2 separate regions of the Homo sapiens genome follow, and region 2 is linked to region 1. Evidence: fine-mapped expression QTL. Tissue or cell type: blood mononuclear cells. Region 1 holds a variant in brackets; the other region holds the start of a gene. All regions are shown on one strand. Distances are from middle to middle. Region 1 overlaps GUF1 (GTP binding elongation factor GUF1). Region 2 holds the start of GUF1 (GTP binding elongation factor GUF1).

The links.
Region 2: GUF1 starts here. The variant in region 1 is fine-mapped to the expression of GUF1 in blood mononuclear cells (TOPMed, PIP above 0.99). The same link has a PIP of 0.9 or more in esophagus mucosa, fibroblasts, lung, pancreas, subcutaneous fat and thyroid.

The regions. Positions count from the first base shown.
Region 1 is chr4:44,694,082-44,710,145 of GRCh38, reverse strand. GUF1 (GTP binding elongation factor GUF1) reads right to left here. Exons shown (of 17, transcript NM_021927.3): 14 at 15,633-15,734; 15 at 14,412-14,531; 16 at 12,702-12,738; 17 at 9,218-11,602. The coding sequence ends at 11,465. GNPDA2 (glucosamine-6-phosphate deaminase 2) reads left to right here. Exons shown (of 7, transcript NM_138335.3): 6 at 2,220-2,394; 7 at 7,004-8,351. The coding sequence ends at 7,065. Among named protein-coding and RNA genes, the nearest start is that of GUF1, 24 kb to the right of the region's middle. The variant GGGCTTAGT/T (reference allele first, on the strand shown) is at 8,574.
Region 2 is chr4:44,673,949-44,687,937 of GRCh38, reverse strand. GUF1 (GTP binding elongation factor GUF1) reads right to left here and starts at 9,518. Exons shown (of 17, transcript NM_021927.3): 1 at 9,151-9,518; 2 at 7,386-7,497; 3 at 7,096-7,244; 4 at 6,735-6,815; 5 at 5,527-5,604; 6 at 4,620-4,703; 7 at 1,915-1,979; 8 at 1,225-1,428. The coding sequence starts at 9,315. RefSeq lists a silencer at 9,180-9,339 and an enhancer at 9,411-10,299.

The DNA.
Region 1 (16,064 bases):
TTCAAGGACTGAAACTTCATAGTCAATAAGTTGAAAAAAGGATTTTAGAGCAATCTTATTTCTAAAATGTGAAACTGAGTTATGTAATAGATTACATTTAACAAGATGTAAGTTTTAATACAGTTTTTATGCTGATTTTTAGAACAAACAATTACTCAAATATTGAGTTTTTTTCTTTGGGTCAGTTTTTGCCCAGACAGGAGTGCAGTGTGTGATTACAGCTTACTGCAGCCTCAACCTCCAGGGCTCAAGAGATCTTCCCACCCCAGCCTCCTAAGTAGCTGGGACTTCAGGTGCACACCACCATGCCTGGCTGATTTTTCAATTTTTCATTTTTTTTTTTTTGGAAGTGACAAGGTCTCACTGTGTTGCCCAGGCTAATTTCCTCATTTATTAAAAATTACATTTGACTTAAAAATTCCAACCAAGAAGGGATGGTGGAGGATTTAATATGAGCTTATAGATTTTTGTAAATCACTTATATCAGTTTATGGGATGATTAAATGTTGATTATTCTTTAAAATTAGCTTATTTCATAACCTTTTAAAATAGTGTTATTGCTACACTTAAGTAGCAAAAAGCTGTATCAATGCAACATCTGCCTGAGCACTGGTTGTCAAACATTAGTGTACATAAGAATCACCTGGTATCCACACCTAGCTTGCTTCTTTAAATTTAGGGATTCTGCAGTTTGAACAAACATAACAAATTATTCCATATAGTTTGTCCTTTCCCATGATATGAGAAATAATCTCCTTGAGAGTAGAACAGGTATGATATAACTAATCACATATCAGATCAAGTCTATTTAAAGACCAATTTGTTTTATCTATGCCTTAGCCATAGATAAACACCAATAATGAATTCTTCATCCTATACTAAGCTTCCCTTCCAGCAGCCTCCTTTCCCTCCACTCCCTTCATAATGGTAATGCCAGGTATGTACTTACCTTTTCTCACCAATAAAAGTTTAGTTGTCTTTTTTTTCCTCAGTATATATACTTCATGTTGAGATTTCTTGCCACCTGTCCCATTACCTTTTTAGAGTGTGCATCCATAATGAAAAGACTCTTAGCTCATATTGTCTAATTGTTAGAACTTTTACAAGAGGCAATGTAATGTAATTGTTAATCGCTAAGAATATGCACTGTAGAAAAAAACTACTTGTTTGTATCTTACCAAAACCTTGGGCCAGTTACAGAATATGCCTCAGTTTCCTTATCTTTAAAATATGAGTAAGAATAGTATTTCTCTCATGGTGGTGTTTTGAGGAGTTGAGGTAATTCAAGGAGAGTGCAGAGTATTTCCTCCCATTTTAGGTCTAGTTATAAAATATGTAATACAAAATTTGTTATATTTTAGAACTACAGCAATTTTAACATTGTTTTTTAAAACAATTGTAATGAGGAAAAAAAGTTTAAAGATTATATTACAAAAATATGTGTGTAGATGAGGTGTTAAATGGGATCAATTTCCAGCTTAAACATGATAAAGAAAAGATTCCGACACATACACATTCACATTTGCAACATGTCATTGCATTATTTCATTGGCATTTAGGGCCTGGGGACCAAGAGCTTGGATTTTCTGTAGCTTATAAGGGTAATATCAGTCATATGTGATTATAAGACAGTTCCTATGTGCTTATAAGACAGTTCCTATGTTTAAGTAGATCCCTAATCCTTTTTTAAATCCAGTTTTTATTCTGAGTCAACTTTGAATAGCACATGTTCAGTGAAATGCTCTTCAGGCTTTTCTTGATAACTCTTCAAATTACCTGTTGTTTTAGAGTCTTTGCTTTTCTGACATAGTATCTTTTGCTTATCTAGACTACAGCAACTTGGTGTATCATTCTAGATTGTATAAATTATTTATAGATTTGTAACTCTGCTTTTGCAACACAGTCCTTTTGTTTCTTTTTCTTCATTGTCCCAGGTTTCTTTTATACATCATCATTCACTATGTTAAAAGTTACAGGTATTATAGTGTTTGCATTAATAACCCATAACAAGATATTGTTTTGCTTTGTTAAACTAGAAGCAACATTTTGTGCTTGTTAATCTTAAAAAGTAGAAATGAATACCTTGAACTATTATGTGGAGCTATGTATTTTTCTTTCTCTCAGAAAAAAATATTGGTGCTTAAGTTCTCGTTTAAAAAAAATAGAGCTTCTTACTCATTTGGAACAAGTTTTAACAATTGATGTTCATAATTTTTCAGGTAATGATCCTTATAACAGGGGCACACAAGGCATTTGCCCTGTACAAAGCAATAGAAGAAGGAGTCAATCACATGTGGACTGTTTCCGCTTTCCAGCAGCATCCCCGGACTATTTTTGTATGCGATGAAGATGCTACTTTAGAATTAAGAGTTAAAACTGTGAAATACTTTAAAGGTGAGCACTGAATTTCAAAAGCCGACTGAGATAATCTGTTGTGAGTGACAATTAAAACTTACTGTGACTGTGGGGTTAAATCTCACACTGTGACCTATTGAAAAGTGGCAACACATAGCTAGTTCTTTCAAGTAATGGAAAGTTCTCACCTCAGATAATAGTATCTTCAAAGTAGTACCTTTTTTTTTTTTTCATGAAGAGAATCTCTTCAGTCTCTATTTTCAGTAAACAATTTTTCTTGAAATCCAAGGTTTAATAATTTACTTTCATATTGAATATACAAGACCAAATAACCCAAAAGAAAATGTATCTTTGTCCATTCTGGATTTCTTTTCATGTTTACTAGTCCCACCTCAATCCCTCTTCCTCACTCCCCTCTAACCTTAATTTAGAACCTAATCAGTGGATAAGAGATCTCCCACTATCTAATTTAATCTTTACAATTTTAAGCCAATTTATTCCCATATATTAAAGTTATAATGTCTAAATGTTAAAATAGTATGGAATAAACTCTGCAAGTAAGCAGGAGTTTGATTGCCCAGACTTCATGTTGATTTTCCTTTTTCCTGTAGTCTAGTTCAGTAATTCAGAAACCTTACTCTACCAGGCTGTGTATTACAAAACACATATGCTTGATATAATGGTTTTAAGAGATTTTCAAGGGACATTTTGCCTATACCCAATGTAGAACCTATTCTCTGATTTAAGAGTCAGCTCCACATATTACACATATGTAAGCAAACTGTACAAACAGGTAATTTTCATAAAGCACCTGTATTTACATAGCTGATATTAAAAGTTACATAGTTGATCATATAGATAGGTCAGTGATTCACTATGTAGTATGTATGCTACTTTTGCTACATGATTATACCTTTTAATCTTTTTTACTCTAGTAACTAGGTATTTATTTTAATGCCTATTGGAAAATACACTGAATAAATCAAAGCTATATTTTTTGGATATTATTGCTTAAGACAAGGTCCAAAAAAGCTACCATATTTGATTGGCTCTAATACACGTTGATCTTGCTGATGTTGGACTGTGTCTTAAAACTGGTGTCAGATCATAGCTTACTGGGTAGCATTTTTTTCTCAGTGGTACATAAAATGGTGTGTCTTACAATTTATAGCATCTCATACTCAGAAATAAAGTATATAATCTTAAATTTTTAATTCAATGCAAAGAAAACCAACTCATATTTCATGTATATGTGTGAATATGGCAAATATCTTGAAGGTGTTATACAAATAACTGACATTTGGCAAGCACTGAAAATAGTCTATTTTTAAACAAAATGCTGATCATGCTTTGTATATAGTTTTGTATTTGTACTTATGTTTCATGAGCATTTTCCTGTTTTACTAAATATTTGGAAGCATTTTAATGGATAGTTAAGTACATAAATCATAATTTATTTAAACATTTCCTTATTAACACTTAGATTATTTCTAGTCATTTATATTTTTACCATTTAAATTACTAATTTACCAAGCCACAAATATATCAAACTGAAAAACTGAAAAACTGAAAAATTTCTGATTTGTGAATAAAAGAGCATTTGATGGAGTTTTAACTCTATTTTCCCATGTAACCCTTCAGATTTCATCCCAAATAATAGATTCCTTGACTACAAGGAATCCTCACTATCCACAAATTTTAATTCCAGTTTTAAGGAGATTCATTTAACATGGCCATTTTCTAGTCCTCATTAAGTCCCAGATAAATCCCTGTACTAATCTAATTTTGTCACAATTAGGTTTTTATCAGATTTTTATATCTTGGTGAATATTTAATAAGATATTTAATAACAGCCAGTATCTCTATGACCAGGCACTATTCTAAATGCATTTTACTTATTGATTTACTTATCACAAAAATGTTATGAAATGGGTATTCATAGTCCCATTTTTAAATTAATAGGCTTAACAGACAGAGACGTTAAGCTACTTACCCAAAGTCATACAGCACATATTTGGGCAGAGCTGGGTAATAGAAATCAAAATCAGGCTGATCTCTGGAGTATGCAGGCTTTTGTCTATTCTATTATACTGCCTCCCAGAATAAACTCTAGGTATGATACCATCTACATCAAAACCATATTTCCATCTGCTTTTTTCCCATATGATAATCACTGCTTCCAAAAAAGGTATATCGACATATGTTAGATAATTTAAAATAGAAGGGTGGTAGATGTTTATATGTATTTAGTTCTTTTAGTTCATCTAATTGTAAGCTCTTCTGAAAAATTTTGAAACAGACCATTCGTGAGAGGATAGCTGCACTGCATCAAGAGGACACAGTATTTTCCACTTTGGAGCTGTCTGTATTTCTGAAGAGGTTTCAGGGTATCAGCCTGTTAGGATACCTCCTTCAATATGAAGACAGAATTTAGACATTCTGGGCTACATATGGGCCTCATTTTACAGCATTTTAGTAAAGGGTAGAGAAATTGAATATTCTTAAATAAACACATTTCAAATGTAGTTTGTATACTTTTCATACCTCCATTGAGTTACTAGTATATCAAAATACTGGAGGATGTAAATTCCTATAATTGTCATCCATAACTCTTCAAATTCCATTCACATCACTACCCTTTCTTCTGTCATCACTAAAAAGTGCTGACCAGAATCTTAAAGGGTTTTATTTAGTGCCTAGATAAGATCTAGGTTAACTAGATCCAAAACAATAAAAATTGTCAGTAAATGCAAGTTTATTTCAATATATACCTATATAACGGTATATACCTTTTGAAAGATACAAGTTAATCACAAGACAACAAGTTTAGTACGTGGGGATTTGTTTTATTCATTCTCGCTTTTCATTTTTGCTTTTTAAATAGAACAGCTTTGATTTTTAGTATATGACATCATCATCATGAATTTTTTTCTCTTACTTTGTATTTAGGCTCCACCTCAGTAGTTTGACAAAGGTAGAATGAGTTCATTTTGAGTCAAAACCATAAAAGTTACTTTGTATAGACATTGGTTAGAATCTGTGACATTTAACCTTTCTTCTGGTAACGTTTCAGGAAGTCTGGTGCATTTTTATCAGAAGAATTATTTCTGTTTGACTTAAGTAGCAATTATTTATTTATATAAAATTCGTATGTAGAAAGTTGTCAGTTTTTACCTAAAGTCACAGTAAATATTTGACTTAATATCTAAAAAGCAATTAATAGAATTTTCAAAATAATTATTTCTAGTTTGGAAGCAGTCCTATTTGATGTATAAAAGATATATCCAATGTAAAGAAAAAAATTTTATAAAGGAGTTGAATTTTTAATATTTACTGATATTTTAATTTGCATGTATTTTAAAGCTCTGTGTATTCTTTCCGTAATCAAAGTTGTTAGCAAATGACAGATGAATACTATTTAAGTAGAAAAACGATCCTCTACAAAGTGATACTCTGGAAAATGTTGCATCTTCTAAATCATACAGCTGATATTACCCTTATCTTTGTTGTCCCCTCTCCTACTGGACATGAAGTTTCAGGTGACCTTCAAGTAGGCTGTTGAGCAGTTGCAGGACTAGTGAATGGAATGCTTCCCCCTTCCCTCCTTTAGAGTCCCATTCTTATGGTTAGAATTTCTCCTACTACACAAACACTTCCCAGTACTCTTTGCTTGTCCCTTAAAAGTGGGTCTTTCTCAAAGCTGGGATTTTAGAGTCCTTTTTGCAGCCTTTCTGACAAGGAACATCTGTTTACTAACAAGCAACCTATCTCTCCAATCCAGTAATCCCATTTCCTGCAAAACCGCATTAAGTGCCTTTCCCCACCCTCCCATGTTCTTAATACCTGGAAAACTTAACTCATTTCTTTACCCTCCAAAATATAAAATCTCTGGTTCATTAACTGGGTCAGTCTTTTTAGAACTTTTTTCTCCCCAAAGAAATATAGTACTGAGGCATTAAAACAGGAGTAACTGGAAGATCAGCTATTTCCCAAGCAGCTTCCATAGCTAAGAGCAGTCTGCAAGTATATGTACCAATTACAAAATGAAAGTTATAATCTACCGGATTTAAAATCGTAATTTCTATTCTGAATTAAATGATTTAATACAGGTTGTTTTCTGTCTTGTTTTAGTAACCCTCCCTCAGTGTAGAATTTGTAATCAACCTTTGTCATAAATACACATGCCAAACTATTGGAAAGTAATTTACCAGACGAATGGATAGGGTAATGTATTAAGAGTGAGACAGCAGTTCTGAGCCCCTGGCTGGAGTCTAGTAGAGGAACTGCCAGAGGATCAATATCAACATAGACTTTTAGATATAATTAAAACCTATTATCTAAGTCAGTATTCAAATTTGTCATGCTTAATCTCTTTGAAGACAAGAAATGCTCTTCTGGTTACTCCCAAAGTACCTGTACACATTCTAGATCTGCACTGTTACATAATTATAAATTGGTATTTGCTAGGTAGATAAAACTTAAGACATTCTGAAACATTTCTATTTGTACTTTTTCAATAAACTTGACTATATCAAGATGGGAACTAAACAGGCTTACTGTGTCTTATAAAAAATACTTTGTTGTCTAAAGTAAATGAGATAGTTCAAAATTAATAAAAACAACTAGAACTGTGCTTTTTTTCTTTAAGGTCTAATGCATGTGCACAATAAACTTGTGGATCCACTATTCAGTATGAAAGATGGAAACTGAAGGAGACTGGAGCAAAATTCAGCTTGAATGAACAGAGCACTTTTTACTAAGTAGTAGATGAATTTTCAGCTATGCAATATGACAAAACATGGGGAATTTTGAAGATTGTCATTTTTTCATTCGAGTCTCTATGTTAAACATTCCATATTTTGAATATTTATATCTTGTACTTGGGTTTAAGAGAAGTAGCTGGCTCTCAAGATTGACTGGCTATTTATTATAAAGTACTGAAGTCACATAGCCACCTATAAAACAGCATAGAAATGTCTGCCTGTTTAAAAAGTCATTTTAAAGGTAGAGTGTCCACATCAGGCACCATTTGTGATATGACTCCAGTGGCGTATATTTCATTTTTTAATGACAAGACACTCCAAACCTTTCAGATAACAAACTATCATTGCAGACCTTCACTTTTGGAATGCAATCTTTATATTTTCTGTGCATCACACACATGCTTTTCTGCACGTGGTTGCCTTAGTCATCTTCCTACAGCACCATCTAGACATCAAAAATTGTGCTATATATCATTGGTAAAGGAAATTTGAAGAGATGACAGTGCCTAAAAGTACAGTTTACATCCTTTTGGAAAGTATGTGTAAGTGCATGTTTTTTGTGCACCTTCTTCTATAGCACTTTTTTACAAATATCTTATTTTTATTTAACGACTTGGGTTCATGTCCCTAATATAAGTATCTTGACAATTATGAGCTTTATACCTAGCAAGCCACTTCAGGAAATTCTTTTGGAGAATATTTTCTGATTATTGTTAAACTTAATATACAATTAGCTTTATTCCTTATAAAATGTCTAAAAGAATAATACGAAGTATATATAAAAGGAATTACTGTAAACTACATTGCCATAGCAATTTACATAAAAGTATATTGTTTTTTATCTTTAACTCAAATAAAGCGTGTAATAAATAAGTTATCTAAATTTCCAGAAGTGAACCTGAAGAATACATGCATTCGACTCCCAACAATTATAGTACATGTGAACCTGCATTCATTTTGGGTTTGTTACCATCATGCATTAGGAGAGTTAGGTTAAAAGATGTCTTTGCCTCTGTGGGGAGCAAAAAAATGCTCCTTTTGCTTATTTTGCATTTCATAAGCCCACCTGGTAGAAGAAGCCTTACTTATCTGCTTGTCTATGTGATTAAAATGTAGTTTCTTAAAATATTAAAATAGCAAATAAATTAATGAAATAAAATTGGTAATAGGGTTTTATGGTTAAAAGTGGGGGATGGGGTAAATTATGCTGCTTTAATTCCAGATGATGTTTTAATAGCCTTATAAATGTTTTTTAAATAACTAGTGAGTAACACTCCACTTACACTTCCAGTAATAAGAATCATTTACTACAAACTATGCTGACTACCTTAGAAAGTCATACAGCATCACAGTGAAAAAGCTAAAGGTACCTGTTGTGCTACATGATTCACCAGTAATTTCTCTGCTTTAAAGGTCTAAAAATTCTCCTTTCCATTTTCCTTCCCTTGATGTTAG[GGGCTTAGT/T]TGAGGTTCATGTACTCAAGCTCCTCCACAAGCTGAGGAGCGAAAACTCTGGCCATTTTCATTCCTGCTTTCATTCCCTAAATTGAGGAGCTAAGCTGCTGTTAGGCAAAGAACCTAGCTTTTTCAAGAAACCAACCACTGAATCCCAGCTCTGTCAGGGAAATAAAAAAGTCTCAGCTACTTCCCCAAAATTTTTACATAGATTGAATAAGGGAAGCATACATAGCTCAGCACAGTGGTTGTCACATATTAAAGTCAATAAACGGTGCTATTTTAATATTGATAACAGTGTTTAAACATATTTCAGTGTTTGCTAAAATCTTAGTAATATTAAGTCCTCTGAGGAATGCACTTATAAAGCACACAACTCCAAATCACTAAAGTCATCTGACTGGGAAAGCGGGAAGGGGAAAGAAATTAAGCTTACAGAAAATGCTTTTTTGTACTACAACTAAAACTATAACTAAAACTACTTTTTTGTACTACTATAACTAAAGAGTCATAGGTTAAAAAAAGGTAAAATTAGTCTGAATAAAAAAGACTAAGACTGGTAAATTATTAAATAGCAAGCACATAGTACATATTACGTTCCAAGAACCAATTTGTAACTTATCCTTTGGCAGTGATAGAACAGAACACTTTTACAATTTTTTAATTTCAAATACTGTCATTTTCAAAATACTACTGTCATGGTCTTTCAGATTTCATCTGTTTTTATCAGAACCTGGAAGAGGGAGGGAAGATACATAAGATGATAATGTATGTATCTAGGACTATATCACAGGCTACTTCTACACATGATTTTAAGTAAATCTCCACTTAATTTATAATTAAAATGATTTCACAATAACTGTAAGCTCAAAATATCTGAGACAGCTCTCAAGTCAGTTTAGAAAGTTTATTTTCCCAGGGTTAAGGTGTGCCCATGACACAGCCTCAGGAGGTCCTCACCACATGTGCCCAAGGTGGTTGGGGCACAGCTTGGTTTTACACATTTTAGAGAGACATGAGACATCAATCAGTATGTGTAAGGTGTACATTGGTCTTGAAAGGCAGGACAACTTGAAGAGGGGCGGGGGCTTCAAGCATAGGCAGGTAAGAGAGAAAGGGTTGCATTTTTTTGAGTTTCTGATTAGCCTTTCACTGAATATACAATTTACATGTGAGAGGAGAGTAGAGGAATAGTCAGTTATACCTTAATCTGGCTTAGTGAAACATGAAACAGAGAAAGCAATCATTTATGCATTTGTTTCATGTGAAGACTTTGAGTTCTTTGTCCATAAGGAATTCCCTTGTGAGCAAATTTTATCTTTGTGGCTGTCTTATTTAGGAATAAAATGGGAGGCAGGTTTGCCTCAATCAGTTCCCAGCTTGACTTCCCTTTGGCTTAGTGGTTTTGAGATTTTTCTTTCATATAACCTTAGTATAAAATTCATCCTTGATAGTGTTTATCCCTAAAAGACATTTTCTTCATTCAATTCATTCAAGGTAGAAGATAAAAATCAATGGCTAAATGATGTTGTCTTGCTCTAATACAGTCTGCAGTCTGGTTTGTTCGTTGGCTGAATAAACATGGGAGCTGAGAGCTCTGGAGAAATACAGCCATTTACTGGCTGTGAAATCTCAAGTTAACTACTCTAAAATCGCTTCGATTATGAAATTTAGACAATAATTATTAAAATGTCATTATGAGTTCCTGGTAATACCAAACACCTGTCATTTTACACAAATGCGTTTTGAATGTCTGAAAGACAGCTCCTGCCCTTAATTTAGATGTAAACCATTTAGTTTCAAACTAACCACCTGATAAAATCTATAAACATTTTATCATTAACTAGAGCAGATGTCTGTTATTTGATGTCTATGTTATTTGAGTTTACTGTTTAATAAGTGAATTCATATCAATTAATCCTGCTAACAAATTTGACACTTAAGGTGATTCTGAAAATCCTTTAAACTTAAAGTAGATGGAATCTTAAGTATGGGGCCTTTTAGTGTCCGTAAAGAAAAACTGCATGCAACAAAATATAGCAGGTCCTCACTTGTTGAGATTCATGGAAATTGTGACTTTAAATGAAATGACATGGCTGGGCATGGTGGCTCACACCTGTAATCAGCACTTTGGGAGGCCACGGTGGGTGGATCACGAGGTCAGGAGTTCAAGACCAGCCTGGCCAACATGGTGAAACCCCGACTCTACTAAAGATACAAAAAATTAGCCGAGCATGGTGGTGCACGCCTGTAATGGAGGCTGAGGCAGGAGAATCTCTTGAACCCAGGAGGCAGAGGTTGCAGTGAGTCGAGATTGTGCCATTGCACTCCAGCCTGGGCGACAGGGCAAGACTCTGTCTCAAAAAATAAATAAAAATAAAATGAAATGACGCATAAACCAATTTTTTTTCCTCATCGATGTTACAAACCACTTAAGGAAATGACATCATTCAAGAACATTGTGCTACGTGTCATTTTGCTTAAAGTCAGTTTCTAAGAACCTTTCGATGGCATTTAAGGACTTAACTGTAGTTACAATTGAGTGCTTACTATGTGTCTTGCACCTCTGAATATTTAACGTATTACCTCATTTAATCTTCACAACAACAACTTATGTAGGTAGTAGTATAATCTCGATTTTACTGAAGAGGAAACAAAGGTTAATCTGGCCACGGTCACCTTACTAGTGAGTGGTTGGAACAGATATTTGAGAACAGGCAACATGGCTTCAAAATCTAAGCTCTTGCCTACCCACTAACTACTCCCTTTCAACGAAAGACTAGTAGGTTATTTGAACCTGAATACCCTGAAAGTAACAAGCAAATTTTATAATTTTCTTTCTGTTGTCAGCATATTACAAATTGCAATGAAAATTCTTTGTTTTCCCACCAATTATTTAGAAGATTGTGTTTTCAGAACTTTTATAAAAGCATCTTTTGGAACTTCAACGTTGCCAATTTTCCTCAGCTTTTTTTTCCCTTCTGCTTGTCTCTTCAAAAGCTTCATTTTTCGGGTAATATCACCACCATACTGAAAAATATTTTAAAACATTGGAAGTCTAAGTCACTCTAAAGAGAAACAATCATATGATTACAGCGGCATCAGTACAACCTTAACAACCATACCAAATTATTATCCATAAGGCAGACATCTCTCTAATCTTCCTAGCAGATCTAATTTTACTGTCTTCTCAAAGAATGATACAGGATTTAATCTGGATGGAGGTGAAGATTCCCAAGGAAACCTAGTATAATAATATGCATGTCAAGGAAGAATTATCAATCTCCTTACTGATTCTAGGCTTGGAATTTTGACTAGAAAGCCACAGTCTAATATAGGTAACTCTTAATCACATAGGAATAAATGTGCCTTTGGAGAAAGAATTGATCATTCAACTCTCACGATATTTAAGAATAATTTTTCTTTTTTTGAGATAGAGTTTCCCTCTCACCCAGGCTGGAGTACAATGGCAGGATCTCTGCTCACTGTAACCTCCGCCTCCTGAGCTCAAGCAATTCTCATGCTGCACCCTCCCGAGTAACTGAGATCACAGGCATGCACCACCACGCCTGGCTAATTTTTGTATTTTCAGTAAAGCTGCGGTTTCACCATGTTGGCCAGGCTGGTCTCGGAACTCCTAGCCTCAAGTGATCTGCCCATCTTGGCCTCCCAAGGTGCTGGGATTACAGTTGTGAGCCACCGAGCTGGTGCAAGAATAATTTTTTAACAGCTGAATAACAGCAAACTGGCAAAACAATGTCAGGAGAGGTAGACTTCAACTGTAAGATAAAGCCATTGTTTTCAAAATCTTTCATTATATGTTAGATCAAGAAAACATGTTACCCAGATCATAGAAATAACTGTTGTAAAAATCTTCCTTAGTATTACATATAAGAACAATTTTAATAAATATTTTTGTAAATTTTTATAAATAAGATGAAAAAATACTTAAAAGATATGGGCAAAATGAACAGGTTGCCATGGTCAAGCTGAAATTTACCTATTCAAAAAGGGAACTTGGAAACAAAGAATGTATAAAAACCAACAATGGAAATCAATAAGTTTATGCCCCCTTTGATTTAAAGCCCATAAAAGTTATAAAGTAGAATAAATACAACTAGATACATACACATTTTGCCAAAACGTTTTTCCTATAGGCTTTCACACTGTAAAAGAGAAAAATTCGTTTAAGTACATAATTCCATTATACTGTTTAAAAGCACTTCCTTACCAAAAACAATCTCCCCTTTACTAGAAAATTTTAATGATAGTATCATTACCTATGTAAAATTGCCATAAGCATATTAATTAGATACTTCAAATGCTCTTGTATTTATTTTCATGTACTTGGTATAAAAGAACAAATAAATTCAACATGTTTATCAACACACATTAAGAAAAAATGGTCAAGGCTTGTGGTAGGCTTGATTAGGCCAAATTCAAGCATGATGTGACCTTGATTACAAGAAATACATTAGGTTATTTTTTACTCAATCTAAAAATTACCAATCTAAAAATTAACACTACTACTTCAGAAAAACAAAATATGTTTATTATCTTATTACTGCCTCTACTGAATGTGGATGGAGTGGCTAGGAAGCTTGATATATCCACCCCAGCAGTTATAAACTAATCTATTTCTACAATGTTTGAGAAATTTCTAGATCACTCTAATTTTGAAAATAGCTCCATCTTTATGTATTCCTTAAGACAGAAAAACCAATTTTTTAAGGTATTATCTCAACACACTTATTTTAGAATGAGCAATTGCTAACTGTCTTAAATTGCACTTTCCAGGATGTTCCCTAGTTATCATTTCTACTCTGCCTGATCTCAGTATTTACAAAACACAGAATAACTAACCAAAGCAAAACAGTGTTAGGAAATGAAATGTATTTCAAACAGTGGGCCTAAAATTAACCTCAAGTCTATATTAACATGATGGTTGTATTTCCTCATTAGGTTTGGGTTAAGGTCGAATTTAATAGCAATTTCCAGCTTTTCATAACTGAGGAGATACTTCCTATTTCCTAGAAGTCTTAGGATCATTAAGGAAAGGAAATGGGAAGTGCTACAAGACACATCCTGCACCTGCTGTCACAAGCAGAGCAGCTTATTCAGTGTTCTTCATTGTTATTTTTGGGTTTTTGTTAAAAAACTGGGTCTTACTATGTTTCCCAGACTAGTCTCACAGCAATACTCCTGCCCCAGCCTCCCAAGTAGTTGGGATCACAGAATGTGAGCCACCACACCCAGCCAGTGTTCTGATTTATGTATTACATTTCATGAAAGACTAGTGTCCGACACAAATTAGCCTGTCTTCCATATCTACTATAATTCATGTGAGGTCCCTAATCTAGAATGCAAATCCTAACATGGTATTGGCATTCCTTGATTTATAACCTCCCTAGCTCTGCGGAAGTGGGGAAGCAATATTAAATGCTTTGGGTTAAAAAAAAATTGTAATTTTGTCATTTGGAAGACAAAACCTTTTAGTTTCAGTTTCTATTAATCTATAATCTACCTAAAGGGATAAAACCATAAAAGAAATTCCTTACCCAGGAAATTCAGTATAGACATTGATATGAGTGGAAATTAAAACAGTTCCTCAAACTCGTATACGTTATACTAACTGCAGATCACATCACCCAGTGCTGTTATATAAGTAATTCAAAGTAACAGTCATTACTTAAATCAGAAAACTGGAGAGCACCATCATACTGTTTCTACAAGTAAGAAAGCTTAGGCCAATGTTAAATTAAAATGTTCAATATTCTTTCACTTTTTAGGTATATCATTTCTGAAACTGGCTCAAGACCAAAAATGAATTTCAACTCACGTTTCTCTTGCAATGATTTTACTTCCAATAGCAGCTTGAATTGCTATCTCAAACAGTTGCCTAGGAAGAGAATCCTTCAGCCGTTCACATATGGCTTTGCCAATTGAATGAGCTTTGTCTCTGAGACAGAAAAATACAACTGTTTATATATCCTAAATAAGAATATTTCAAGTATTTTTCTAGGCCAGTTGCATAATCAGTGTAAAGGTGATCTCTTAAGGAGGTTCAAATGGAACTTACTTATAAATCTCTCTTACTCTCTGAATCATGAACAACTTCTCTGATTTAAAAAAGTAATGTATGATTACAGAATATTTAGAAATACAACATTAGACAATAGAAACTGTTCTTGATTCTCTTTCCTTACCCGCTGAAAACGGTTAAACATTTTGGAATGATTATTTTAAACAGTTATCTTTCTAATCACTTTTTTGCATTTTTTTGTATGATCAGTGTTTACGATATATTCTACCCTCTTTATATTTAACAGACATTTTTATGTCACTAAATATTACTCCACAAGTTTTAATGGCTGAAAATAACAATATGGGTGCTTTGTAATTCATTTTAACCAATCTGCTGTTTCTTGAACACGTGGGGGTTTTCCTTTTTATAATTTTTTTACAAATATAAAAGGGCGCGGTGGCTTACGCCTGTAAATCCAGCACTTTGGGAGGCCGAGGCGGGCAGATCAGAGGTCAAGAGATCGAGACCATCCTGGCCAATATGGTGAAACCCCATCTCTACTAAAAATACAAAAATTAGCCGGGCATGGTAGCATGCGCTTGTAGTCCCAGCTACTCAGGAGGCTGAGGCAGGAGAATTGCTTGAACCCGGGAGGCGGAGGTTGCAGTGAGCAGAAATTGCGCCACTGCACTCCAGCCTGGCAACAGAATGAGACTCCCATCTAAAAAAAAAACAAAACAAAACAAAAAAACTTGTTCCCAATTCTAAATCCATCATTATAAAATGTTTAAAACTTTTTTTAATATGGTGAAGGGAAACATTTCTATGACACTGTTCTTTTTGACTATTATAGCTCTGTTCTATTTTTAGCAGTCTAGAGAGAAGTGTGGAAAAAAAAGAGAAAGCAAAGTTAGTAGGGTGAACTCTATTTTAATTACCTTAGAAGTTTTTTAAATGCAGCTGCTCAAACAAAAATAAATGAAAAACATATCAAAAGTATTTTCACATTCCATGATTAGTTTCTATTGAACTTACTTGTGTACAACAGTTACTAGCTCCTCTACAGTATTTCCATTCAGTAGAATATCCATTTTTACAAGTTCTGCAGTCTGGTAGCCTGCATCTTCGTAATCAAAACTAAAAGGAAAAAAGTCCAAGTGATAAATATTACACTTCCTGAGAGATTACCTTTATTACTCTTTACTCTTTACTAAATGTCTACTTTCTACCGCATTACACTCCCCAAAGAGATATGTTTCCATCAAAATATTACATATACAGTTTCTTGTGAATGGATCTAAATGTTATCTTTTTATGTTTATTAAATCAAGGGCAAAAGCAAGGGGAATATGTTTATAGGGGAAAGGAAAATAAGCTGGTGAACCTGACAAAGAAAATGGTTTATTGAAGACAAATATCATGCCTTCCCAATGTTCCCAGCAGCTGGGAGGCTTCGGACAATACTAT
Region 2 (13,989 bases), 21 kb after region 1:
TACCTTCCCAGGAAACTATCATACACTTTCCAAACTTTCCATACACTTTGAAAATAAGTGCTACATATCAATTATCAAACTCTGAAGCTTGTCAGCAAATGAACACACCAGGTCTTACAATCCATTAGACCTCTCTACTTATAAACCTAATGCCTTTTTCATGATTCTGCCAACCTTTGCAATTTAAACAGCAGTTTCTAAAATATATGTAAATACAGTGAAACTAGTAAGTACAAAAGCATTATAATAAGTACACTTGTGATGTCTTTTATTAATGAATTGTGTTGAAAATGTTCTTTAACAAAGGAAAAAAAGGTAAATTTTTATCCAAGAAAAATGTGAACTCTCAACAAACTGGACACTTGATATTCCTCCTGTAGCAAAAGAGCAAATCCTATGAGTTCAGTTTAAGCTTAGTTAAAAAAAAAAATCCCTACAAAACTAAAATGATTTACACTTAGAATGAGCTTTAAGAACCTTAAATGAAGATGTGATAATGTTTGGTATATATGGCAGAATATAAATAGATGTTAAAATATTTCAGTAAAATAAAAATAGACTTTCTGACTCAATATAGTGCTGTTTTTAGACATATAACACTAAACACTCAAATGTGATCTGACAGTCATCTGGTTCAATAATTTCTACAGACAAGGAACAGGACCTTACAAAGCTCAAATTATGTACCCAAGGTCATGCCTCATCAGTACCTGATACGGAGTAGGCACTCAATAAATAGTTCTTTTACAAGTCAATTCAGATGTTTTTCTAATGCACACTACCCTTGCTAATCCTACTCCCCAAGAATTTTAATCAAGGTTTTACCATGAATTCCACACTAAAGATTTATTAAGGTTTCTATTATACCACCTTTACATTGGAAAATCTAGTTATGAAGAAATGTCAAAAATGATACCTAATATGGATATGGGTGGAGGGAACTAACTCTTTCATTGTCTCATCAAATACATCGATATAGGATCCAATCTACCCTTGATCATAAATCTAGTTATAACTAGTCATTTAGAATAAAAAAAGTATCAACTGACGTTTCTATTGTCCTTCCCATGAGATTCCTTGACAGAGCATTTACTGTATAGTTGCATTAAATAGTTTTTTTTAAGTTACCAAATGAGGATCATTCTAAGCATACCAAGTTGAGAAAAATGCAGAAATAGAACCACATACAAATGCATTTTAATTTTACTAATGCAGATTACTTACAATTTATGAGTTGGCTGCTCATTAGGATTCAAGACTCCTACTTCATTAACTTCGTATGTCTTTTGAGTATGTGCAGATACAATTTTATCTCCTTTGGAAACCACTCCGTCAAATAATGCTACATTGGCTATCACACCTCTATACTGGTCAAAGGTGGAGTCAAATACCAAAGCTCTCAGAGGATTTTTGCGATGCACTTTAGGACTAGTAAATATAAGTAAAAAGTAAATATATATACACTAAATTAAAATCTTAATAAAATTCTTATTTTCAACTTAGATATTGTACTTGAGTTCTTGAGAAAGTTTGATACACAACAGCCTAAATAAAAAGACCTTTTTATAAAATATATTAGATTTAATAACCTCTAGTTTTAACAAATTATTTATGAATATATTTGTTCAGCTTAAAGCAAAGGAAAATAACTGCCAATGTACTGAGGTATATTTTATAATGATTGTCATGAAAAGACCTCTATCAATCATCTTTACTTTTTCTTTTACTTTACTGTACTTGCCTTCTATGTATTACTAAAAGCAAATAAATTTATTCTCGCTGCCTGCAAGAATATTTGCCACATCCATTAAGCTAAAATAACAGTTCAAGCTGACAGTCTTTGAACTATTAAACATGGACAGTTTTTGAACTATTAAATAGAGACAACTAGTACAAAAATCACCAAATACTCACGGGGGGATTCTTTCAATAATTGCCTGAAGAACACTCTCAACATTTGTTCCAAGTTTAGCAGAAATCTAAAAAGATACATGTGAAAAATATAAGCATTTAAAGTTAAGACTATACTTTTCTATCTTGATGACCTGTGACTTATGATCAGAAGGAAAAAAAAATTCCAATAGTTATCAATTTGAGAAATACACCAAAAGGAAAAGAACAAAGCAAACAGTATATTGACAAATACTTTTTCTATTATAGTTACGTAGTTCTACAGTTCTAGAATGGAATTACAAGAGAGTCCTAATTATGGTATTGAAAGAGGAATAGTTCGAAATCTGGGTAACAATCATGTCTTTGCATTGAATCCATGTATTTCACCAGTATCTATCTCTTTGAGCATAAATTTCATCATCTAAAAAATGAAGTGATTATTCATATTCTGCCTAAATCTCAAGGTTGTTGTGTGGATAAACAATGTATGTGGATGGCATAAAACCATAAGGCATCTTACTACTACTTTAGTGTTCTCACACCAGAAAAGCAAGCCAACACTCAAGCCACATGGTATGACTGACCTTTATCACTGGTAATAAATGGACTATCTCTGAAATCCTGACTTCAAACTTCTTACTCTTCACATTCACTCTAGACTAGGATTTCTCAGTTTCAGCCCTACTGACATTTTGGGCCAGATAATTCTTTGTTTTGGGAGGCTGTCCTGTGCATTACAGGATGTTCAGCAGCAACCAGGGCACCTCATTTACCCACAAGATGCTGGTAGCATCCCTCCCAAGATGTGAAAACCAAAAATATCTCCAAATATTTGCCCAGGGGCAAAACCACCCACCACTGACAACTACTGCTCTAGACTGTAGTACTTTCTTTACAATAGTCCTTAACTTGTAACTATTGAATATACTACTTGATGCTGTCCATCAGCTTCACCCTCCACTCTGTTTCTATCTTTTCCCAGATGGGACTCCAAGATCCATCATTTACATTCACTCTGGTTCAACCACTTTCTGTTCTCTTCTTATTAGAGGCAGCTGACAAAACCTCAACCTTGACTGCATCCAATTATGTGTTTTTTCTATGCCCATATACAGAACAGCTTAACATTACTGGAAAAAAGAAATCAAATAAATGGTCTGGTTCGTTTCTTGTATCTGACAACAAGCTATCTTGCCTATGGGCAGCTGTGCTTCTTATATACTTATCTCCAAATCAAGAAACATCATTTAATGCAATGCAGATTTTAAAATTAAGGTTCTTTATTAATTTTAAAGTATGAAATGGAGGTTTGTAGACAGTGCTCAGTTTAGCAATGAACTGTTATGTTTTATGTATATTGTTTCCTCCTGGATCATAATCTCCTTTTCATATGGATAGTTAATACTGAGCCATAGTAATTTCACATCTGGGCTACCATTAATAGCTGGATTCCCTGTATCTCTTCTTATACCTCTTTGATCCATTCTCTGTAAGGCTACCTGAATGACTGGTTAATTTGTTTCTCTTGCTTTAAAATCCTTCCATTGTCTTAGAATAATTTTCAAGCTCTTCAGCACAGCACGAGTCCCAGCATGACTTGATTCCTGCATACCCCTACAAAGCCTTCTCATCCAATCAACCTTTCTGATCAGTAAACATGCCAAATCTTTTCCTAATTTAAGTCCTTTACACATGCTCTTTTCTCTTCCTGGAATGTTTTTCTGAAAATTATTCATTCCTCCACGTTTCAGTTTATCAGAGACGCTTTTGCTAAGTTATTCCATGTCATAACGTCTCTCTAAGAAAAAAGACTTTTCACTGTTAATGATGGTATTTCACCTAGAATAATAACAATTTGTCGAATGAATTTCCTTGACAATCTCTATCCTAGTCAATAATTCCTATGCTTACTTCTTTGTTTACTTATTTATTGACTGTCTGCAGAAAGGAAGGGGTCTTGTCTGTCTTATTCACTGCCATACTCTTAGCTGGCATATACCAAATAAGAATCTGAATGAATTTTATTAAGATTAAAATCAGAATAGTTAATTGTATTTTAATATAACATAATCCAAAATATAAAACCATATATAACTTGCTCTTTTGAAAATTAAATTAGCTTGAAAGAAAAACATTACATTGCTGTGCTGACATACTTTACACTACCATGTAGTATAGCAGTTTGGCTGTGGCTGTTTAACAAGCAGATCATCATTTCAAAGGTAAATAAAAATTCAAATTTAAAATGGTAGCAACTTTGGTATAAATAAAATCTATTGTTTCCTAGCACTACAACTAGCTTTTTATAAAATAGGTTTTTGTCAGTTCCAAGAATGATACATACAAAAGCCCTGAAATTAGTTTGAACCTGCTCTTCAAAGACAGTATTTCCACTGGGCAAACTGACACACAAGAAATACTGCAGGGAGTTTCAGAAGGCCTGTGTTTTAGTCCTGGCACATTGGCTAACTAAACCTGTGATCTTAGGAAAGTGATAAAACCTTTGAGCCTCAGTTCCTTTAACTACAGCATCGCAATAATTTCTGTATGTCCTAACAATATAAAAAGGGCTTTTGATAAGGATCAAAGGAAATAATAGTAAAAGAAGTTTGTAAAACTATAAAAAACAGCATATAATGCCAGGTTATCAAATACCATGAAATTTCACTTAGCCCAATTACTTGAGACTTTTTTCAAAGTATAATCTTTTTAGGAACGTATTTTACCTTAATACATTCATCACTTGGAATATCAAACACTTTCTCAATTTGGTTTTCAACCCTTTCAGGATCAGCATTCTTCAGATCTATCTTTAAAAAAAAAAATCCATTATGTGAAGTATAATAAAGATAAGATGTATTATGTATTAACAGTATTCGGAGGTAATTAAAAGCTTACCCACTTTAACCTAACTGACCCCTCTACAATATTTTTTCAAAAGCAGTAAAATAATCTATATATTAGCAGTATAATTTAATAACCATGATTGAAAAAGAGAAGTTAAGTAGCAGAGCTTGCAAAAAAAACTTAAGCAGTTAGCTACCCAGGGCAGCAGAAGAGATCAGTAGTAATTTATCAATTAAGCAGCATGTGAACTGATTTTAAAGGTTAAGTTAAATACAACATTAAGTCTGACAACAAGCTGTCTTACCTATGGCCTTCTTTTAAACTTAACTCCATTATCAAGAAATATAATTAAAGCAATGCAGATTTTAAAATTAAGATTCTAAATTAATTTTAAAATATGAAATGGAAGTTTATAGACAGAGCTCAGTTTAGCACTAAATTGTCATGCTTCATGTGTTGTATTGTTTCTTCCTAGATTATAAACTTCTCTTCTTTTCCTATGTATGGTTTAATCTGACAAACATGTTTCATCTGCCCTGCTTCCCTTCCCTACAGAAATGGCCCTCAGCTACCACAAGTTAATTCAGGAGAACTACCTTCTCAATTCTGTGCAAGGGTGAGTTTCAGTTGCACTTCTGTTATATACAATTCAAAGAGATAAATCCCACCAATATATTTAATAAATAGCTGGTGATCCCTCATATAATGAATAGTACAACTGACATTTAAACATTAATTGTACTTTTAGAAAGTGAAATAGCAACACTGTTGTCTCATTGTAATTACCTTATTTATAACTGGAATTACCGATAGCTGTGCTTCGAAGGCAAGAAAGAAGTTTGCTACAGTTTGGGCTTGAATTCCCTGAAAATATCAAGATACAAGATACTGAGATGACCATTCTATTATATATCACAAAACTTGTAATTTAAGACCATTCTATACATCTTCATCAAGAGATTTTGCGTTATGCTAATAATAAAATTAAACAAAATGCCATGTAGCTACCCTTCATGCTTTTCTCTCCAACTTATGTCTTTGGGGTCAATATGAAAATCGCTGATGGTAAAGCAATAATCACATCAAGTAGAGTGAGCCAACAGACAGTCTACTAAGCTTGAGATAGGAAGCCTTTAAGGAAAGGTACACGGCAGCTCAACTATGATACCTATTTTTCCATGCATCTGAATCATCCTCTGTAATAATTCCTTTCAGTTCAGAAAGCATTTATTGGAGGGCCTTTTCTGTGCCAGAAACTACATCAGGCATTGGAGAAACAAAAGATGTAACATGGACTCTCAAGGACCTCAAAGCTTATTAGAGAACACAGTCATCAAGGTAGTTTATAAAGGCCAGTACTGCCTACATAAGGTAGAGATTGACTTTCCTTGATGGGATCAGGAAAGGCTTAACGGCTTAACACAACACGGTCACCACCACCACTAAAAAAAAGTTGGGTTTTGAATGAAGAGTTTGTGAGAAACATGTAACAAAAGTTTATATTCACAGCTCTTACATGGTCATCTGCTGAGTGTCTTTACGGCTTACACAACAAAAGAGCTTAGTAATGTTACTGATTTTTTAAAAACCTAATACTTCCAAATTATTGCCTTAAAATCACCTAAAATGATCTGAAAACTAATGATTTATTCTTAAGATCTGCTAAAAATGGATATAGAAACCTCAGATTAAGAACTGCTAAAGTTGGTGGGGTTTTTTTGGTAAGATGCATTGACAATATGATGTCACACTTCAAAAAAATACAACAATCTTTTGAACAATTCCAATTTAAAAACTAGTCAATTCCAGAGAATGCTTTATTGTAATAATATTTCAGATTAACAGGATGAAACCATATGATTTTCAGTAAGTAACAGATTAAATCTATTTTTCAAACACAAAAATTCTATTTCCAAAACACATTTTAAAGAAAAACTCTTGAAACAACCAAATAGTCATGTCATATCACATCATACAAAATGAAAAATACCTACCTCATTTGCATCAACCACAAGTAAAACACCCTGGCAAGCAGAAAGTGACCTGGATACTTCATAACTAAAATCAACATGGCCCTGAGAAACAAAAATATTGATACCTGTAAATGTGAGTTAATTTTTTAGGAAAGAGCATTATGGCAAATTTATTGACTTTACTTGATAAAAGCTGTTAAATATTCGTTTCTTTTTTGTAGCCTGCACTTTTGAAACAACTGACACTAACATAAGAACACTGAGAAAACAAAAAGCAAAGGCAGATGTTTAATACTCAGTTCAAAAATTAAACAAGGATCTGTTTGCACTACTGACACAATGTTGACTTTAACAATACATGCAAAATTAATATTAAACTTACCGGTGTATCAATGAGATTTAAAAGGTACTGCTTTCCTTCACAATTGTAAAAGAGAGATGCTGTCTGTGCTTTAACAGTGATTCCTCTTTCTCGTTCCACTTGCAATTTATCAAGAACCTGCTTATTATTCTTTGTTTTATCAATTGTCCCTATAAACAGAAACACTTATTGATATTTCTCTGGGCTTTAAAAAAAAAAGAGAATATTACTTATAAAATTAAAATTTAAGAGTAAAAGTAATTCCCAATAACTCGCAGCCATCAGTTAAGTATGTAACATAAATGAAATACCTGTAAGTTCTAGGAGCCTGTCAGCTAAAGTACTTTTGCCATGATCCACGTGTGCAACAATACTGAAATTTCTAATATTTTCAACAGGAAACCTAGACATGTCAAGTTTTTCCTAGAAAGGGGAAATACCACATTTAGGAGTATAAATTTGGCATACTATCAAACAAGTATACCAATTCAAAGAATATTCTTTTAATCGTTGAACAATATCATTTCTAGCATTTATATTGTTTATATTATTATTCTAAGAAAAAGACATGTATGGCTAAGTTCATATTACAAGGAACATCAGTTTAATAGCCAAAGGTAACTATACAGCTAAATCATAATCCCTTAACATTTCTACACAATTTTTAGGGCCAATCAGGAACTGAATTTATTATCGTGAATGGAGAACATGAGACACCTAGAACTTCTAAAGGCCTGAGAATACCTTGTCTAGTAAAACTTTTGAGGCAATGGAGCTACAGAAAAGCTGAAAGAAGATAAATTTTCTGCTCCTATCACACATTTAATCAGGAATCAGATTTATTTAAAAATCTGTGTCTCTAATGGAGCCTCAAAATTTTATTTTAAATACAATTTTGCTACTTTGCAGCTTCTCTGGTGAGAAAGAAAAAAAGATGACATCCAACAAAAGACTTATCACTTAAAACTTAAAAATATTTTAAAATGGAACTCCTGGTTTTTCGTGTACACATCTTCTTTAACGTTTTACTGAAACACATCACAAATTGCTAGAAATTGTTATCAAGCAAAATATACCAGTTTTTTGTACTCTATTTTTTTCCAATCAACTGCATATTTCACAATCAGCAAAACCATGAAATTACAATGAAATATAAAATTCACGTGAGCTTTGTTTTTTAATAGCCCCATAAAGACAGATAATAAAAGCACAATTATAGCTGAAAGTCTGCCGAAAAAAAACTAATTCTGATGTTTGCCCTGTAGATTTTCTTTCCCTTCAGTTCAAAAGGTATAGAGAATTGCACCATCTTTATACTTCGAATTGCAATATAAATCCATTTTTAAAAACACAGGCATATTAGGGCCAAAGTTGATTAATTTAAGGTTTTGTCTTTCTGCCTACTTATAGCTTGCCTTCAGTCACTTCACTTTTCTGACTAAAATGTATCCATTCACAATTATCAGAGTTGTTGAACCTCCCACCCTCTCCCACCAGAGTCAAAATTACACAGGTTTGCTCTGGCTGAGGTAGAATGAAATAAAACTACAAAGACAGACCGAGAACTTCCTGCATTCTAGGTATTAGTCTAAAAAAGTCCACTTCTCACATCACACAAATCTCACAAATTAGCCACTGGATGTTTGATCAGTTCTGCATTCAACAAATGAAGTAGGAGAGTGACAATGTAGTAACTTGCCCAGGCCACATAGCTACTTAATTTGCAGGAAAATGGACGTTATATTAATATTTACTAGCAACTTGCTTAGTAGGCTTTTTAGAATTAAATAGATGAATAAACGCAAAGCACTTCGACCAGTGGCTCGCGTAAACAAATCAACATTTGACATTGAAAATGAGAAAACCTACAAAGTTAGTGACTTGCCCAAGGTCACACTAGTGAGGAGTGGAGGGTCGGGAACCTGAGCAGTGCTCACACTCTCCGCTCTGCCTCCCTGTACCAAGTTGCAAGCAGGGTTCAGAGCTAGTCCCAGAAAGCCCTATACATGTCCAAGATCGCATGGGGCACTCCAACGTTTGAAAACTTGGCTAAATCAGATTCCAGGGGGCAGTCACCTTGAATTCTGCGGAGCTGTAGAGCCTGTCGGTAGCCCAGGACTCTGGAGCAGCCCCAAGGGTCGGCGCGGACCGGGGCCCCGGGGCCACCAGAAGCGCGGCCCCAGTGGCTCGTGGCGCGAGAGCGCGTGCGCACCCCCAGCCCCGACCCACGAGGGTCCACATGACCCGGGCGGCGGAGGCGTCAGGAGAGGGTACCCACACGCAACAGCAGCATAGCCCGTTTTTTTTCGAAGGTACCCCCCGTAGGATCCGGTGGACAGGACTCAAACAGATCCTGTGAAGCGAAGACAATGAACCCCGGGGAGCTCTGCCCAAGTACCAGATCCGGAAGCAACCCGAAGCGGCGGCGCAGCTTGCCGACGTCTGCACGCCGCACGCTGTCGTGACATCAGCGCGTCTTGGCGCCGGGTAGTGGAGTGGTCACGTGAGTGGAGGCTTTCGATTGACTCCCTAAAACGCAGGGTGTAGACAGAGTACATATTAGCTTATATTGTCTGCTGAGTGCTGTGCCAATTCCTTTGCATTGTCTCTTTCTTACTACTGCCCTGTGGTGTGTGTACTGTCAGTTCCCCCAAACTACCTCTGGAAATCCGGACCGAGTGACTTGCCCAGGAGCTCACAGGTGGGGAGCTGTGGAGCCTGGAGTGCCGCCCAGGCAGTCTGATTCCCGAACCAGGAGCCGAGGTCTTAGTCCAGGGACTTAAAGATGCTATTATTAGCACAACGTTGAGACTTAGCCTTCTACCTAATGGCAAAATAATAATGGCACTTTTAAAATCTGGAGGTCGAAATGTATTCCCCATGTTGTCAGTGACAGAGCTAATCTTGAAGTGCATCTGAAAGGAAACGGGCCATAACATTGATTGCAATACTGAATCCAGGAAGGTTTTGGCAAGAAGTAAAGGTGGGAAAAAGTTCCATGCTGGACCCCCAATGTTTCCATCGTCATCAAGTTACCACTTCATGGAATGAGCTCTGACGAAGTAAGAATGGGGGATAAAACAGGTGATAGGAGGATTGCATCCAGTGTTTGTCTCCCACTATTTCTCTTGCGCTTTTCTGGAATATCCAGAATTTGGTGCGAAGGAGGGAGATGACAGCTGTGTTCAGTTCATCATTGTGACTGAAGACAGAATCATTCGTATTGTTTCCAGAGCCTTTGAAAGTTTCTTCATTTGGAGGATTTCTTAGGATCAAGAATTCTGTACCAGACTCAGTTCTTTCTTGGATTTTTTTTTCCCCCCTGAGATGGTGTCTCGCTCTGTCGCCCAGGCTGGAGTACAGTAGCGCTATCTCGGCTCACTGCAACCTCCGCCTCCTGGGCTCAAGCGATTCTCCTGCCTCAGTCTCCTGAGTAGCTGGGATTACAGGCGCGCGCCAGCAATCATGGCTAATTTTTGTATTTTTAGTAGAGACGGGGTTTCACCATGTTGGTCACGCTGATCTCGAACTCCTGACCTCGTGATCTGCCCACCTCGGCCTCCCAAAGTGTTGCGATTACAGGCGTGAGCCACCGCGCCTGGCCCTTTCTTGGAACTTTTATGAATTAAAACAGTACTTGATAGACGACTAATTCTGTCACACTTGTAAGAGAATGAATTTAACAACTATCTTGAAGTAAACACAATAATTTATATTCAATGTTGCCCAGACTTCCATAATTTGCACAATTACCCTCATTAATTTTCACCATATCCTGTCAAAGATAAAGGCAGACACCAGTTAAAGTGGTGAAGACAGATTTTTATTATAGTGATATACTAATGCAATCGGGAATAAGATCCAGAATGAACTAAACTACAATTTGTCCAGAGGCGACTGTATTTTAAAAGGAGAATGCGGGAGTAGGGAAAGAGAACAACTGGGCTTGATCAAAGTCAGGGAAACGGAAATTTACAAAAAACAATGGCGGAAGAATGGTCCATTTGAAATCCATCTGGGTTGTAAACTGTTGCTTATGGAAATAAGGCTCCTACCCTTCCCGCAGACACTAGGAAATGAGTGCTACTTTCACATGTTGGCTGGAACAAATAAATTATTTTGTCAGTCTTGAGCTTTCTCAGACAGAAATTTAAGGGGGCTTCATCTTAGAGATGCAGCCTTGAGCTGTTATAAACTATATGAGTTTGTTCAAGTCTTTTAATGTGTGGGCAAACCGGTAGGGGAAGGATGTGGATGAAATCATTTGTGCTGAGGGTCTGTAGTTTTTATAGGCAAGTTTGAGGCTTTGCTGATAAGAGGGCTTAGAAGAGTCAGGCTAGAGTTTGGTCAAGAATCTTTGTCAATCCTCATACCGATATTATGTACTTTATATTTTTCTTTAACTTACCTTTATATGTAAATGAATTCTTTTTAAAAGAAAACGTAGATACCATTAATGGAGAAAGCATGATGAGCTGTCATAAGAGTAACAGTAAATATAACTGTAGTGAATAAAAAATGTGATTCAATTGTAGGTTTGGTCTGTCTGGATTACAAAAGGGAGATTAGCAGATATTAGAAAAGAATTTAAAAATATTAGCCTCAAACTGAGATTTTTCTCTTTGACCTAGCAAGAAGCATTTAAATAGGGTTGAAAGAAAAACTTTATCTGAATAACACAGTATCCTTGATACCATGTCTGTATCTATCTTGGTGCCTCCACAGGAATTTGTCCCACACTTTAGAAAACTGCAGTATCTTATAAGGCTGACATTATGTTTCCCAGCCTACAAATGGAAAAACATATTTGTTAGAAAAATACTGAGCTCCACTGTGTCAGGTTATATACTAGCTGTGGAAACTCAAACAAATTAAGCAAAATGTCTAAAATTACATGATAGATAAATTACATGATAGATAAATGCAAAAAAAAATTTGAATCCAAATTTTTGGAAACTAAAGCTCATCTCTTGCAATATCTTTGCACAAGTTTCTTTATTATTCAACTTGAGAAGAAGCAGGAGGTATAGTGACTGAACTTCAAAGAGGAGGTATCTTTCATGTGCTTCGAAGGATAGGCAGTTTTTTGTTTTTATCCAAGGAAATAAATGGAACTTAAGCAGAGGAATAATCAACAGCATAACACATTTTCTCAGTTCCCAGTACTATTCTACATACTTTGTATCAATTCATTCGATCTTCACAGAGCCCTCTATTGCTGGCACTCTTATTATCTCTGTTTCATAGATTTCCAAGAAAAATGTGGCCAACGTTTTTTAAATAACTGTCTAGAGTCACAGTTAGTGATGAACTAGGGCTGTGAGTCCACACAGTCCAGCTGTAGAGCCTGCACCCTTAACCACTCCAGTAAACTCGGCTCAGCTGAGCAAGGATACAAATGCGGAAAAACACACAATAAATTGGGTTAATAGTCAGTAGAGAACAGGGCCAACATTCAGGACAGTAGCATTTTATTTGAGGCGAGGACTTCTGAAGAGCTTAAATAATTTACAAACTCATAAATCAAGACTCAGTTTTTCTGTAAAAATAAATATATAATATGGAGATTGCACTCATATAGTACATTAATCCACAACTATTGTATGGTTTCTATATTTGTAAATATACCGAAAGGAATATGAGTTTGCTAGGGCTTTCATAACAAAATACCACAGACTGACTTGGTGGCTTAAACAATAGATATTTATTTTCTCACAATTCTGGAGGCTAAGAGTTTGAGATCAATGTATCAGCACAGCTGGTTTCTTCTGAGACCTCTCTGTTTGGCTTGCAGATCAGTACCTTCTGCGTTCTTACAGGGTCTTCTCTCTATACATGTCTGTGTCCTAATTTTCTTATCAAGACTCTAGTCATATTTGATTTGGGCCAATCCTAATAATTTTAAATTAATTATTTCATTAAAGACCCTATCTCTAAATACAGTCTCATTCTGAGATATTGGGGGTTTGAACATCAACATATAAACATGGAAGTGTTGACACAATTCAGCCCATAACAAAAGAGTAATAAAAACAATGTATAAATAACTATCACCTCTAAATTCTGTTTCAAAGTTATTGATATTGTGGAGCATTTCTAGCACTAAAAATACCATTAATAAATGATTAAAGTAGTATCACATTAGCCATTTAAAGCGCTTGCACAATTTTAGAGCATAATCACACAATATTAACAAAGGTTCTCTAGTATTGCTGCTAGGCTGCTAAAATGGTGCCACCATGTGTCTACAGTATAAAATACATCTTTCAATTCACTTTTGAGGCCCATTTTTAAATTATTCTAAGTTTTTTAGACTTTTATATTTTTTCAAATTTTGAGCATAAAAATTTGATCTTTAGAAATATTTTCATATCACAAAATAGAAAGTGTATAGGGTAGAGGAGGAATCATAGAAAGAAGAGTTTGTATCACTTTGTGAAGGGCTTTGAACAGGGACGTACTAGTTAGCATTTCACCATTAATCTATGCAGAAACCATCGTAAGGAAGGAAATAACAGAATTTTTTGCTCTAGGGGGCTTTCTCTAACGATGTGTAAAATGAAAAGAAATCAAATGAGGTGATGAGAATGAAAGGGAAAGAGAGTTTTTTATTTTAATAATCTAGGTAAGACAGGCCGGGCGCGGTGGCTCACGCCTGTAATCCCAGCACTTTGGAAGGCCGAGGCGGGTGGATCACGAGGTCAGGAGATCGAGACCATCGTGGCTAACACGGTGAAACCTCGTCTCTACTAAAAACACTAAAAATTAGCCAGGCATCGTGGCGGGCGCTGTAGTCCCAGCTACTCGGGAGGCTGAGGCAGGAGAATGACGTGAACTCAGGAGGCGGAGCTTGCAGTGAGCTGAGATTGCGCCACTGCACTCCAGCCTGGGCAACACAGCTAGACTCCGTCTCAA